2 separate regions of the Homo sapiens genome follow, and region 2 is linked to region 1. The links come from fine-mapping of genetic effects on gene expression. Tissue or cell type: whole blood. Region 1 holds a variant in brackets; the other region holds the start of a gene. All regions are shown on one strand. Distances are from middle to middle.

Region 1 (8,106 bases):
TCAGCCCCTCAGGTGAGATGGCCTCTGCCATCTCAGGACTCTTCAGAGAGTCCCTACTAGCAAGGCAGCTCTCACTACACGTGCCCCCTCAACTTTGGACTTCCCAGCTTCTAGTTCTATAAGATATACATTTTGTTTCTTATAAATTACCCAGTTTCAGGTATTCTATTATAAGTAATGGAAAACAGATTAACATAATGATTTTTTCAAAGATGCAAATTACAGTAACTATAAGTGCTGGGAGATACTAAGTAAAGAATGCTAAAGAAGGGGGTAAAAAGAGTTCATGTGACATCGTTCACAGATAATCTTTTCTGAGTTAGGAGATTCTTCAGGAACTTCCTGTCTGATAAAGTAAGCTTTTCATTCCCTACAGTTTTAACAAAACTTCCTGTTAAGTTCTAGTTCTCAGCCAGGAATTGTCTACCTCGAAAAGACTTCCTTAATTTTTTATTGCATAATGTTTACATATTCCATATAGTACCTTAAAAATGTTAAGTTTCAAACTCTGAGACATGTTCCCCAAACCTCCAAATTTACTGAAGATTATGATGACAGCACCTTCCTGCTGGACCATCTCTCTATCTCTTCGTGCAGCTGGAATACAAAAACTCAAATGACAGTCCCAGTCCCAAAATAGTGATGGTCACATACCTGCTGGGAAAACTCACAGTACAGAAATAAGCAAACAACAAAATTAAAGAGTGCTCCAGGAGGAGCCTCAACCGCTGTTTATTGAATGGCACTAAATTAGAACTGTGTACTAATTCAACAAATATTTATTATGTAATACATGCCAAGCACTAAACTAGTGTTGGAAAATCAGTGGACAAAAACAATTGTCCACTAGAAGATTATGCCATTGGAAGGATTTCCTTTCAGAAAAGGAATAAAATTATAAAAACAAAATTAGATTGAAAATGAATATTCGTTTATAAAGACAAATTACAAATTTTAATTGAATGTTTGAGTCTCTGTTGTATTGGTGCTTACAATAGAAGGGACACTAAACAAAACAATAACAACAATACTCTCTCAAAATAGAAAATGTCTAGAGGACTATATTAAGGATGTGACATTTGAGCTGAAATCTGGAAAATGAGTAAGAATTCAATTATACAAAGGGGAAGGAAGCAAGAGTATGCTAGGTGAAGACAACCGCACATACAAAGGTCCTGGCCAGGAAGAAGCATGGCATTCACGAAGAACTGAGAGCAGAAGGGTATGGCTGGAGCTTATGGCGTAAAGGGTTTCTGCAGTCCTACATATGTGACCCCAAATCATCTTTAATTATCAACACTTTTGTCAATGGGACCCTCCCCCTAATGACCACAGCCATTGCCTGGAATGCTCCTATAAAGGGTCAGAGAGCAAGCTTGCCTCCCCTCAATGATTCTCCAGAAACTCAATCCACAAACGTTTAGTGAAAGCCTACAGTGCGTTGGGCACTGCACTAGGTATTGCAATGTAATGAAGGGTAACAATCTGCGTTCAGGAGAGGATGCACGGCCAAATGCATAGCTATCCAAGGTCATAACCAACATACCATATTGCATCCCATTCCTACCTTAGTGGCATTCCTGGATATGGAACGAAAACAGCTTGGGTGATGTCCTAGAAATAAGAGAATGAGGAAAGTCCACTAGGGTAGAGAGGACTTGTCTGATTAGAACAGATAAATGATATGGCTGCGAGTTGCGAGATGAATGTAGGGAAATAATACTTGAAAGACATGATAAAGTCTTCACCAGTTCTGAGAAAATGGCAACTCTGAAGAGGCCAGGGGCAATAATCCAAAGGTGAATTAGAACAATGGCTGAGGAGAGAGAGAGGACAGCCATGGCCATCAGCAGGTCTTGATGACTGATCAAGACAGAGGACAAAGGTTGGAGGAATTACAAAAACTCAACTTAAAGCAGGACACCTGGGAGAGTGGTGGGATGGTAACAGAAATCAGGAAGTTGGAAAGAGGAGTTGCTTAGAGGAAAACTTGGAAAACTTTTAAAAAATATAACAGTCTGAACTTAAAGTCAAATCCTGGCTAACTGAGTGATAATAGCAAACAGGCCAGCTGGAAATGGAAGACGAGGCCTGGGCAGAGGTCAAGACGAGAGGGCCCACATGTGGGAGTCTTTCAGGAGGAGTGGTGGTCTAAATAACAAGAATAGATGAGCTCGCGAGAAAAAGAGGGGAAAGCAGAGGGCCCTGGGGAACACCCACACAACAGAGGAGAGGAAAGCACAATAGACAAAGAGATAACTTGAAAAAGAACCAGCAGAGTTCACGAACATTGAAAGTACACTTTTTAAACATAAATCAAATCATGCAACTCCCCCACCAACCTATGGGCATGACCTGGCCCCTCCCACCTCTCTGACCTGTCTCCTCTCCTCTCCCCTCCCTCACAATGCAAGGGCCATGCTGGCCTTTTGTTGTCCCTCAAATACAAAAAGTTCATTTCCACTCCAGGGCCTTCGTGCTTTCTGATCCCTCTACTAGACTGCTCTCCAGGAGATCCCAGAGAGACTAATGACACACACACACAATTCTCTGCCATGTCATAGCCTTGTATTGTCCTAACCCATACTACCATCTGAAATTCTTATTTGTTTATTCGTTTACCTACTTACTTTCTGTCTCCTACTCCCAAGTGCATTCTGCGAGAGCAGGGACGTGAGACCTTGTTTCTCACTCTCTGCTCTTACAGTGCATGGCACTAAATGGGGACTTGAGAAAATAAACACCTTAGATTAAGCAAGAGCAAACTTAGTGACCTTCATAAGATCCGTTTTGATAAAAGTAACAGCATCAAGATATGGAGAGGAAAAGAAGGCAAGAGCTAGAGACACTTATTTAAAACATGCACACCCTCCTCAGGTGTAAGCAGGAGGAACTGCTGAGAAGGTAGTATAGCTAAATCACATCTTCTATAAGGGCTGCCTTTCTGGAATATGGAAATAAAACATTTTACCTGGATCACGTTATTTCTTTTACTGAGGCTTCTCCCAGAGAAAACTCTAACCCATTTCCATCATGCCTAAAATCCTTACTTAGATGGTAAAACATTTTAAAAACTCAAACAGAACAAAAATATCGGCTACTTCAAGTTCTTTATTAAAAATACAGGCTGCACACCACCCAAATTGTGGGAGCTGTCACTGAAATACAGGAAGTGAGGCAGCATCAGACTTTAAGCACACTTGGCACTTACTTACCCACGGACCTGAAACTCACACCCACTAAGAAATTTCTTCAAAGCTGGGTGCTAGGCTGACTCTTCCTGTGGTCTTCTGTAGTTGTATATTCA[C/T]CTTTGGGCCTTTCCCCAGAAGCTTATCATCTCAGTTGTGACAGTAGGAGGGGGCACCATAAAGTGGCATTGTATTGAGAGAAGAGGGAACTGTTTCTTTCAAAATGTGAAATGGGATGAAGCTAATGGAGGATTTGTAAAATGTTTGTAAGTCAAAGGTTTTGCTAAAGTCTGAGAAGCTTTTCCTCTCTGCTCCTGCCAGAACTACCAAGCAATCTCCTGCAGCAGCTAAGGAGCTTCAGACTTCCCAGGAACTGACATCTCGTGGCTGCTGGCCAGGCTGGGTAAAACAGTTACCATGGTCCTCTCTTTGCTCTATGGCTAGAACTGCTGCTTTGGAATTTGTTTGCCCCCTCAGAAGGAAAACAGGAGACAAGGCAAAGAGATAAAAGCAAGGCCATTCAGAGAGGATAGGAAAAGGTCAAGTTAAGTTAGTAGAAAACAAAAGCCAGCAAAGAAAACCAACTTCAGGGAGCACAGATTAACTGACAATGGCAGAAACACCCCAGCAGGTGGCAATCCTCTGAGATGCACATGCTGCTGTGTTTTAAATAAAGACACAAGTAAAGTTAATATAATTCGCTAAAAACAAATTTGCACAAAGTAAACACGTGATCTAGAAGTTGCATTCAGGCAAAAGCCCTGCCCGATTCCATTGGCTAAGCTAGACTTAGCTGTACTAACCTGTTTTGAAAGACACCCTTACCTACCACCCTCTGACACCTGAGCTAATGAAAATTTCTATTATTTTGAGCTGGGAAGAACTGAATGGAGCAAATGACCATCAATTAATAGGTCTGGCTTCTTGTGAGCAAATGAGCTTCAGAAGGTCAGGGCTTGCCTAGACATAGTTACCAGCAGCATCCTCTAGTGAGATAAAAGAAAAGAGAGACCCTTTAATTTAAGGTCCATGAAGGAGCCCCATTCATGTCAGAAAGCTCAAAGGCAGTTGCAGGACAGGAAAGGATAAAATGGTGCCTTTGAGTACTTGGTCAATGAGGAAATGGAGATGTGGCAGAGCAGTGGGGAAGGTCGTTACCAGTGAAGGTCGGAAAACCCCAGGCTTATTGTGGGATCTGCCACTAACAAATTTTCTGAGTCAAAAAAAATTATTCTTATGACTTCTAATAGAGCATTTTAAAATCCAGAGTGTCAAACCAGCTGAGTTAACTTAGTCAAGCCAGTCAATCTCCCTCTTGGAGACTAATCTCCTCATCAGCAAAGTGAGGGTGCCCAGGCAAAGGTCCCCAAGATGCCCTCATAGACTAATATTTCGAGTTGATGGGCATGAGGCCAGTCATAGGTAGCCCACTGGGGGATGGAGGGCCACCAAGAGAGAAGGGCAGTGTCTGGAGGACAGGATTTCCTTCCACAGGACCCAAAAGCCACAGGGAATCTGCAGGGATCCGGAAGAAGGCCCCTGCTGGGTGACCCCAGAACAAAGCCACCAAGTCACTTACTACCTCAATAAGAAGCTGCTTCCCTGAGCTGGGGAAGAGTCCATCCAGACAACTTGGGCCCTGTCCTCCGGCCCTCCCTGCAGAAGGCTGGGACCAAGGGGAGCATGCTCCACCAAGTATTCATGGAAGCTATACCAACATCCAGAAATTAGAAAAGGCTGAATAGGATAGAGTTTCCCCCACTACCTCTAGACATCAGATTATACCTTCAACACCCACAATGAGCCCAGCAGCAACCAACATTCTTGGGACCAAACACAGCAGGAGACAGTGACTCAGAATAAAAGAATAATATAAACATAAAATGCTAAGGGAATAGCGAAGTATCTTAGATCCAGCTGGAAACAAGCTACTGAAGCAAAAAACTCCCACTGCCCAAATGGTTATACAATTTGCAGCCTCCAGAGAAAAAAGTGATTACACTCTTCTCAGTCAGTGGCTATGATTAACATGTCTGCACAGCACCTCAGAAGGGTGGAAGGGAGCAAGAGCCCACACACACAGTCTCACACATGCACCCTCTGCAGATGTTAAAAAAAATCTCCACGGATTAGTCAAATTCTGACTAATAGATGCTCATATTAGTCAGAATTTGAGAAATGGGAGAAATAAAGGACACTTCTAACCCTTCACCAACTTAATCAACATACAAAATTTAACATCCCTCCTTTCTTTGCACAATGAAAATGAGAACATAATCCCCAGCTACATAATTATCAGTTATTAAAGCTAAAGAAATAGACATTAAATATTTCTGAAAGTTGCTGAATAAAATGTCAACTATTAGATCTCATTTGCAAAGCAATCCACTAAAATTTAAAATATGTATGCCCTTCATCCAGCAATTCTACTCCTAGGAATCTATCCCATAGAGATGAAAGTATCAACATATAAGGACATATGGACAGGATGTCTGGTGAATAATTGTTCATGATTGCCAAGAACTGAAACAAAGTGAATGGCCATCAATAGGGAATGAGCTTGACCCATACCTATTCATTAATTAGAGTGAGTTTGAGCTATGTCTGATGGCTTATAGGAGTTTATACAAAGTATCACTGAGTTGGAAAAGATACAGAAGTCCACATAATATGATCCTTCTACTAAAGCTTGTATATGTATATATGAATACAGAAGAACATGAAAATGTTTGCACTAAGTCCATGGTTCTCAATCTTTAGCACACAGCAGAATCGCTTGAAAGTTTTATTAAAACACAGATTGCTGGGCCCCATCCACAGAGTGTCTGATTCAGTAGGTCCAGCATGAGGTCTGAGAATTTGCATTTCTGGCAAGTTCCTAGGGATGCTGATGCTGCTAAGAACCCCTGCAGGAGATGACTCTAAGGGTTAGCTCAGAGTACAGGAACGGGAATTATAAAATGGGGGTGAGGGGAAATGGGGTCCTGTCCATTATAATAAAAACAGCATTCCCGTATAATTCCTTATGAAATATCATGAGTGTGTGTGTGTGTGTGTGTGTGTACACATTTGCCAAACAAATTTTAGTGTTTACCAAAATACTAATAAAGTTCTCTAAAAAGGAGAATTTCACTGGGCACAGTGGCTCATGCCAATAATCTCATCACTTTAGGAGTCCAAGGTGGGTGGATCTCTTGAGCCCAGAAGTTTGAGACCAGCCTGGGCAACATGGCAAGACCCCATCTCTACAAAAAATACAAAAATTAGCCAGGTGTGGTGGCTCATGCCTCTAGTCCCAGCTACTCTGGGAGCTGAGGCAGGAGGATTGCTTGAACCCAGGAGGTGGAGGCTGCAGTGAGCCAAGATCGCACTACACTCCCCAGCCTGGATGACACGGCGAGAATTTGTCTCAAAAAAAAAAGGTGGAACTTCAACTGATCTTCACTTTCTTTTTAATAATTTTACTTACTATTATATTCTTTATAATAAGCAAGTGTTATTTAATCATTTTAAATAAAGCCATTTTAATTGAGGAAAAATGGAAAAATCTTCGGAACCAACAATTTCTCAAGCAAGACTTTTCTGTTTTATTCACAGCACTAAACTGATATTTCAGAAAGACTAGCATTAATTATACTTTACAAACAGCTTTTGTTTTTGTTGAGATAGGGTATTGCTCTCTCACCCAGGCTGGAGTGCAGTGGTGTGATTACAGCTCACTGCAGCCTTGAACTCCTTGGCTCAAGTGATCCTCCCACCTCAGCCTCCCAAGTAGCTGGGACTATAGGCTTGAGCCACCACACGTGGCTTTTTTTTTTTTTTTTTTTTTTTTTTGTAAAGACAGAGTCTTACAATGTTGACCAGGCTGATCTAGGGAGGACTAAGCAGCCTCTCAAAGTGCTGACATTACAGGTATATGCCACCACACACAGCCAATTATACTTTATACAAAAATAAAATATAATTAATGTAAAAAAAGGAGCTCTTGGATAAATAAGTAGAATAGGTATTTGTTTTATAATTCTCCTTGATTTACAAAATGTAGAGAAAACTCAATATAAAATGTAATCAAAAAGCATTCATTAGCAAAAACACAAATTGGCTTGTAAATGCAAAATCTCTTCCTCTCTCAAAGTTTAATTAAATGCCCAGTAAGCAAAATCTCTCCTCTTAAGCTGTCCTTGCATCGTTTCCTATCTCTTTTTACACACAAACTAGGAAAAAGAAGACTAAGAGCAATAATCTAAAAATAAAATTATCTACTTTCTCACGGCAACGTGAAATCTTAAAATAATTAATTTAAAAATAAAACCAAAATAAAAATATCTTTATAATTTCCAGTACAGAACTTTTAAGCTCCCAAGTGGTGTTAACTGAAGAATTTTCAGCCAGAAAAATAAACACCTTAGGTTCCACTGATTCTAACTTACCCTTTTCCAGGCTTTTGCACTTCTCATTAGCTTCACCACCACAATTCTTTCCAGCTTAAAATACACCTCCTAATACTATTGTACCATTCAGTCTAAAAACTAAGCCTAGACTTCAAACCAGACTGCAGGCCTCTGGTGTTTTTTTTTTTTGTTTTTTCTTTTTCTCCTTGGAATAAACAGACTAGCCTTCCAGTGCTGCTCCTTCAGTTTCTTTTCAAGCACGAATGCAGGAAGCTGCTTAGAGACTAAAAATTGGATTTGCAATGCTCATATATATCCCTAGGTTCCACAAAGTGATATTATAAAGCTCTTGGCTGCCAGTCTTGCCAATTCCTGCTTCTTCTCTGATCTTAGTAGTGTTTCTCTTTTTCTGCAACTGCAACTCAGGGAACTGCCATGGATTCTTTTAAAAATTAGACTAAAGCTGACCATGGTGGCATGTGCCTGTAGTCCCAGCTACTGGGGAGGCTAAGGCAGGAGGCTTGCTA
Region 2 (8,095 bases), 68 kb after region 1:
TCTCTCATTAAAAAATGATGTCAGATCTCATTATCTTGGTTATCCAGGAGAAGAAGTCCAGGAGCAATAATGTTACAAATAAGCAAATTACTATTGTGCCTGAGATCAAATTTCAAGGGAAAAATGGAAGTCAATTAAGAAGATGCACTATCACATTAAAAAAATAAGTTACATGACTTATTTTGCCAGTCAAATGTCTTTAATTTTTTTTTTTTTTTGAGACAGAGTCTTTTTCTGTCACCCAGACTGGAAATGTGGTGGCACCATCTCAGCTCACTGCAGCCTCTACTTCCCCAACTCAAGCTATCCTCCCCACTCTGCCTCTCAAGTAGCTGGGACTATAGGCACACACCACACACCACCATGCCTGGCTAGTTTTTGTATTTTTTTTGTAGAGACAGGGTTTTGCCATGTTGCCCAGGCTGGTCTTGAACTCCTGGGCTCAAGCAATCCTCCCACTTCAGCCTCTCAAAGTGTTGGGGTTATGTGCATGAGCCACCACCCCCACCCTGGCCAGCCAAATGTCTTAATGTGGAGTGTGCAAAAGTCTACTCCGAAAATGCAACAGACCCTAAAAACTCTAAAGCCAGAAAAGTGTCACCTTCAACACGGAATCCAAAGATCAGAGAATCAAAGCAAAGAGCAGTGCTGGGCACATAGTAAGACTTCAACAAATATTAGTTGAATGAATGTAAATGAAGAACATGTTCATAGAAAGAGAGCCCCATAATAGAGATTGTCAAAATGGCAAAATAGTAGAGTGACACTGCCTTGGGCTTCCGAGAACTTCCAATACCATGATAATAACAAAAGAACTAAGGGTCACAGAGACTGGACAAAATGGCAGAGTATCATACAAATGGAGCAAAATGCTCTGTGATACAGGACCTGACCTACACTTCTTAAGCAAGAAAAATATCTCAAAGCCCAGCTTTGCCTAAGTAGAGATGTGGACTCAAGTCTGACAGGGTGGCATATTTACAGCACAACTTTAGCATGGCAGAATTCCCTGAATTTGGTGCACTTCAAATGTAACACTGTTTTTACATCCTCAGTAGGAGTTGCCCAGGTTGACCCACCTCTTCATAACAAATCTTATTTAAGGTTATGGGCGGGGGCCGGTGGGGGGATCCCAGAGCTACTCTGCTTCACTAAAAGCAACATAAATACAAATGCAATTACACAAAACCTACACAAACCAGATCTGTCATATCTGATTAGTAAATAAAAGCATAATAAAATTATAGTCAGCCTAGGTAATTTAGGCTCTGTTCAGTACCATCCTAGCCATGCCCAAGTGGTGAGGCTTTTCCAACATTTATATCATGAATCTTTTTTTCTTGGAATTCAGTCCTTGGTCATAAACTGGCAGGACTTGTTGGAGCTTGGGTACCAATATAGTGGTGTACAGAATGTTTAATATAGAAGTAATAGTATATGCTGCAATTTGTTTTAATACCTACTTAGAACACATAGTCTTTTCTCACGGGGCATACTAAAGGAGGTCATGTATCAGAGCTCACCTGAAATTCCTGCCCAATTTAAGTCTTAGCCACAAGTGTAGTTTCTTATAAGAACACAATAAGAAAACATTCCAAACTCTTCTGCAGTACTCACATAATTAAAAAAAAAAAGTATGAAACCCACCCAAGTGAGGCTTCTGAGACATTTCATAGAAACTTAGTTATTAACTACTATTTTTCTTCTTTACCTTTAAGTGTTTATAAACTGCTTAAAGGACAGTTGGGTACTTCAGAGGAAAGTCTAATGACACGCCTGCTATACAACCTGTTCTTAGTTGGCCAGATTGTGTGGTTTTGATAAGGAAAAAAAAAAAGTCAAAAGCAGGACAAACACTGATTCTCTGTTCTCCATTCTCCCATTACCCAAGACATTCATCTGAGTCACACACTCTATAGCTAGCTCTGAGCCTCAGTTTCCCTAACCATTAGCTATAAGATCTGATGCTAGCCAAATTCCTATTTGATCAAAGTTAATCAGCCCAATAATCACATATAGAGTCCACATCAGAACATTACATTGAAATACTATGTTGTATTAAAAATTCCAAAGGGTTTTGCCATATTCATCTCTTTTCTGCAAATACTCCAAAGGGGTTACTTTGGCTATTAATCAAGATTAGGCAAATACCCATGTGCTTTAGGAATGTGTAACTAAAAACCCAGGACAGATCTAGAGAAACCTTCCCAGGTTTCCCAGAAGTCATCACTACGCTTGGATTGTCATGTACAAAGTAGATGCCACAGAACCTAACAAGGGTAGGTCCTTGATTTGTTTTTGCAGTGAAAACAGGATTTCACTTACACCTGACAGCTTCAGGGCCTAGGAACACAAGATAACAACGCTTCAGAAAGCCAGGGGCCCCATGGAACCCCAAATGATCAGTTCTTTATAAACGAAAATTAAAGATCTTACTTTCTTTGGATTTTGCCCAATTGGTGTGGTCCGTGGTGAACCTCTATAACTCCTGGTGTGAGGAGATGTGTGGATACCCAGGCAGGGGTCAAGGCGGGAGAAGCCGCACAAACACAGATGTTGCCACTGTTCCTCGGCCCACCCAGCCAACCAATGCGGGGACGCTGTGGGCCTATAGAGATGGATTCTTTCTTAGAAATCTAACTGGTCTCTGGGAAACCAAAGCTGGGTATCCAGGGCCGCCTGAGCACCCAGTTTCCATACAGCCCTCGACCCAAATGGTGCTTTCTTGGCCAAACACCGGCCTGTCATTCGGAAAACCTAAGCACGGGAAGGCTGGGGCACCACCACATACACCCCGGGTATTTAAGGGGAAACAAATCCATAAAATAAGCGTAAGGAGTCCCACATAATTCTGACCACCTTTCCCAACCAAGGTAACCATAAATGCCTTTTGAAACACAGCAGATGCTTCCACACGAGTAAGTGGTAGTGCGTGTGTCCTGAGCTTGCGTTCCGTCTGCATTCTGCGGTCCTGGCCCTGCCAAGCACCCTCAGTCCCGGAGCTGAAGCATGGATGGGAAGGGCGGACACCAACTCTCGACGTTCTCCCTTCTCCACCGCAGGAGTGCTGTTTATTTCCCTGTCTCCCGAAGGACACTGGCGGGGCTTTCACCCGCCCAGCCCCCGGCTCTCAGTGCGCCCGAGCGACCCCGCGCTCCGCAGCTGCCGCCGCCGCACGAGGCTGCGCCGCCCTCTCCACTTGTTGCCGCTCCCGAGGGAGCGGGAGGCGGCGCCCAGCCCTCGCGCCGCAGCGCCTGCAGCGGTTCCCCGGTCACCTCTGCTGACCCTCGCATCCCTGGGGACCCTGGAGAAAGTGGCCCTGCGGATGCGAACTCAGGTGGACAAACTTTTCCGCCCAGAGCTGCAGGGAAACGCAGACGATGGAGTCCCAAAGAGCATTTACCTGGAGCGATGGCCCCGCAGCCTCCAGAACCCAGGCGAGGCTCTGCCCCCGCGCCCTGCCTGAGGGCGCCTCGGAACGCGCCCCCAGCCAGCCGCCGCCCGGAGTCCGGAAGGCTCTCCCCGGCGATGCCAACGCCTGGCGGCGGCCGGGCTGAAGCCAAGGTTTAGGGGGTGGAGCCGCGGCCGCGCGCCCGGGCCCGGCTGGCTGCGCCAGCAGCGGGTGCCGCCCCCGCTCCCCCCGCTCCCCCCGCGCCTCCCCGCTGCCACTGGATCCCCGCCTGCCCACCTCCCGGCCCGGCTCGCGGCGGCCGCATCACATGGCGAGGCCCGCCCGCCGGCCGCGCCCGACACCGGCTCCAGGAGGAAACCTGAAGCTGCCCCTACCGCGCTGTCTCCGCCAGCCCCCTCCCGCTGCGGGGCTGCGGCCGTTGGCCTCCGGAGATCGGAGGCGCGGAGGCTGGCGCGGACCTGGCGGGCCACAGGAGTGCCAGTTGCGCCCCGGGCGCCCCCACGCCTTGGCGCCTCCCGAGGGAGGCGCTGGGCTGCCCGCTCGCGAAAGGAGTTGTGCCAGGCCCGAGGGAGGCTCAGGCTGTTCCCAGCCAAAAGCCACCACACCCGTGACATAATACGGCCCGGGTCTATTACAATAGGAAATATTATTTTTAAAAACAGCATTTGCCCTCTTATTTGAAGCTCATGTTCCCTGGCCGAGAGCTTTGCAAGCTGCGATTCCCTTCACGTTTATGCACGCAAGTGGCTGCAAGTCTTAATTCAAAAACGTATGAAAACCATAACCACTTTTACAATGAACAGCAATGTGAAGGGACTTCCTTATCCTCCAAAGCAGTTTTCCTCTTAGATGTGATGACAGCCCCAAGAGCAGAAGCCAAGCCTCTTCATCAGCCAGGCTCTCATATACAGACTTAAGACCATTATTGCAGCTTTAAAGGTAAAATTGCCCATCTGAGACTGCTGTGGCAGTAAGTGTTATAGTTAAGACTATTTGTAAGGAAATTAGTATTGAAATATAAAGTTTCTAATAAAATTTATAAAATCACCTTGAGTCTCTGCTTTGTTTTTCCTTTGAAGACTGGCTACGCACAGAACCATAACAAAGGTGTGGCCCGAGGAAGCTGGCCACCAAGATCCCAAGCCAGAATGGAGCCCAGCTCCCAGGCTGCCACCACCACTTCTCCTGGGCCTGGGCCTTTTCTGTCTCCCTTCCAGCCGCCACCTTCCCCAGCCCACCTTGCTGATACGAATGCTGAGAAAGGCTGAGATTAGCAAGAGAAAGACCATCGTGTGTCTGAATGCCTTAGCCCTGTTCCAAGGCAAAGGCTGCAATTCCGCCTTGGGAAAGGGACCCCAACACTGGCATTGCACTCCTGACCTGGGCTGTCATCCCAGCTGATTCCACCCTCAGCCCCACAGAGCTGTGAACTCAAGGCCTGGCCTCAGGCGCTGCCACAAAAAAAAAAAAAGAAAAAAAAAATATATATATATATCCTGCCCAGTGTCAAGGTACACAAGATAAAAATAAAAGCAATAATATTCTTTTCAAAAATAGAAAAAATTTTGAGCAGGGCGTGGTGGCTCACACCTGTAATCCCAGCACTTTGGGAGGCTGAGGCGGGTGGATCACCTGAGGTCAGGAGCTCGAGACCAGCCTGGACAACATGGTGAAACCCCGTCTCCACAAAAACACACAATTTAGCTGGGTGTGTTGGTGCGTGCCTGTAATCCCAGCTACTCGAGAGGCTGAGGCAGGAGAATCACTTGAACTGAAGATTAACTGAATCAACATGCCAGACAAAAATGGTTTCCAAACTCTGGTGAATAAACATGGTGATGTGTTAGAAGCCTTTGTTGTTATTGTCCTTTTTCATATCACTAGTACTGAAGCCCTCTTTTTCTTTTTTTTTTTTTTTTAATTCTGGCAGGTATGTATCTTTTTTTAAAAAACAAAAAAATGTGGAAAGAGGAACAAATATTATAAGAAGTTACCCCCAAGCCCCTTCCCCACTAAAAAGAAACCAGCAAAACTAGTAATTGTGAAACTCTCACCACCCAAGGACATACAATGCTAGCTGCAGTTTTCTTGCCTGCTCTCAAGCCCTGAGCTTGATCAATATTTAAATACGTACTTGGCTTTCAACTTCTCTAGGTTCAAATATTAAGCAAAGTGTTTGCTTCAGCAACCTTAAAAGAAGCCGTGACTATCTGAGGCAGGAAGCTATCAGTTGTGTAAATAACCCTTTGCACCTGATTGATTTCACTGCTCCAGATATAGGTCACTCAGGACATTGCTGGCACTAAGCTTGGCTGGGACAGCATTTGTTTTGAATTCAAAGACTATATATTCTCTACAGACAAGGGACATTCAGCCAGCAAGAAACCAGGCTGGCCATTCAGTTAGGGAAATTCTAACTGCCTAGTGAGTATTATGCCAATGTCCTAGCTCAGCTCTGTCTTTTCTAGAGATTCAATCCCCATTCATCCTTACATACTTCACTCCAGATAGACCTCCTCCATAAATCCTTACATTGTCCTGGTTTCTGCTACCCTCTGAATTTTGGCAAAGCATAATGGCCTTACTACACAGTGTAGCACCTGATTATATTAACTGTCACATGTTGGACAACTGTAGGCTCTTATCCTCCCTTCAACTTGAAATTCAAGGACAAAACCTGTTCCTTACCCCTGTAATCTTCACAGTCCCAACACAGGGCATTTCTGGAGTATTTAGTATTTGTTTTTTAATTGAACTATCACATCCATTATGCAAGAAGAAAAATGTCACCATTTTCAAACTTTAATGAATTATAACCACTGCTAATTATATTATCTATTTAATTATTTCCTGGCCTTCATTATATTTCCTTTGTCAATAATTCTCAAAAATTGGATAATTGTAAATCTGATGTTTAGCCACGTGAGTTAGGGAATTACTAGTGTTTCTTAAGTGAAAGCAAGATACTAGAAAATGGTAGATTTAATAGGAGGTGAACAAACTCTGGAATACAAATAGGATGATCTTGGGAAGATACAACCTTTCTAAGCCTCCATTTCCTCATCTGTATAATGGGCATAAGAACAGCATATACTATCATTGTGAGGATTACGTGACTGAAAGTGATTACAGGACACATAATAAGGATGTGGAAAATAGTGGCAGTTAATCTTTTAGTGTATGGTTGTATTAGGAGAACACTTCAGAGCTTTGAGATAATTAATAGGGCATGGCAGACCCCAAGACAAGAAACTATTTCTGGATTATAAACTTGGTTGTCCAGCCTAGGAAGGTCGGAGAACACAGAGAAAAGAGGCCAACATTATTAAAACCAGGGGACAGATCTCATGGGGAAATCCACACAGTAGTTCTCATTCTGGCTACACATTAGCATCACCTGGGAAGCTTTAAAACAATCTTGATTCCCAGAACGCCCACCTGATCAATCATTCGGAATCTCCAGAAAATTGGGCCCATGTTATTGGTCGTTTTTTGAAAGCTCTCCAGGTGATTCCAATGTTCAACCAAAGTTGGGAACCACTGGACTAAAGGAACTGAATGTATTGACACTGGAGGAGGGTGAGGATCGCACTCAATTATATGTGGTTAAGGGGAATCAGCTCTTCCATTTCCAATGTTAAACCATCAGGTTTAAATTGCAGGTGAGCAGGGCTTCCGTGTAATCTGCATATGAGTCACTTGGGGATCTTGTTAAAATGCAAATTCTGACTTAGTAGCAGATGGAGTCTGATATTCTTCATTTCTGATAAGTTTGAGTTGGGGCTGAGGCTACTGGTCTGTGGACCATACTCTGAGGAGCGAAATAATAGATTTAGAGAGAAATATTCAGATTTGTTACAGGAGAAGTCTTAACATCTCTGAATATTTTTAATCAACTGATATTTATTGAGCACCAACTATGCAAAAAATTAATATTTTGCAATCTTTGAAGAAAATAATAGGTTGTTTTTAGCCAGTTTTCAGTATGAGGTCTTCCCTAAAGGGGCAACTTACCTGTCAGGTATAGCAAGCTCAGTGCCTAGGGTCTATAATACTTATAGGGGCCAAAAAATATTTTAATTTCTTTTAAAATCAGAAGAGAAAAATGAACTTTTAGGTCAAAGAAAATGTTTTAGCATATAATATTAATATATTTGTATCTATAACAATGCAATAGTGAAATATAATTTTTCTTTTTATCTACATTTTTATTTTTCTGGAGGAAGGTGCGTATGAAGGCAAAAGTGCCCAGATCCTACAAAAGTCATAATGCAGCTATGTTCTTGAAGTCCATATTAGTCTCAGGTATTTTTAGGAAAGCACATGGAACTCATTGTGGCTGATATTTTCATGTTGGTATTTACATGAGCAAAAGGAAGATATTGGGGAAATTATAAATACGCCTTTTGAGTGGAGCCAGCCCAATAATTATGAAGAGTTCAACACTTTCCACGTGTGCAATTTGGAAACACTGGGGATGCTCCATTGACAAAACATTGTTTCTTTTCAGCTGATTCCTTAGGGTCTAAAATTCTATCACTAGAGATTTACTCCACCTCCAGAGCCAGTCTCTAGAGATTCACATTATTGAGACCCTTCCTTTGCATATTGACCTTTTTTTTTTTTTTTTGAGACAGGGTCTCACTCTGTCACTCAGGCTGGAATAAAGTGGTGCAGCTGCAC

What was found. PIP is the estimated chance that this variant, and not a neighbour inherited with it, causes the effect.
Region 2: ARHGEF28 starts here. The variant in region 1 is fine-mapped to the expression of ARHGEF28 in whole blood (TOPMed, PIP above 0.99).

What each region holds. Positions count from the first base shown.
Region 1 is chr5:73,689,442-73,697,547 of GRCh38, reverse strand. All of the region lies in intron 2 of ARHGEF28 (Rho guanine nucleotide exchange factor 28), which reads right to left. Among named protein-coding and RNA genes, the nearest start is that of ARHGEF28, 67 kb to the right of the region's middle. RefSeq lists an enhancer at 3,442-4,066. The variant C/T (reference allele first, on the strand shown) is at 3,308.
Region 2 is chr5:73,621,631-73,629,725 of GRCh38, reverse strand. It overlaps ARHGEF28 (Rho guanine nucleotide exchange factor 28), which reads right to left and starts at 3,530. Exons shown (of 36, transcript NM_001177693.2): 1 at 3,404-3,530. RefSeq lists a silencer at 3,732-3,821.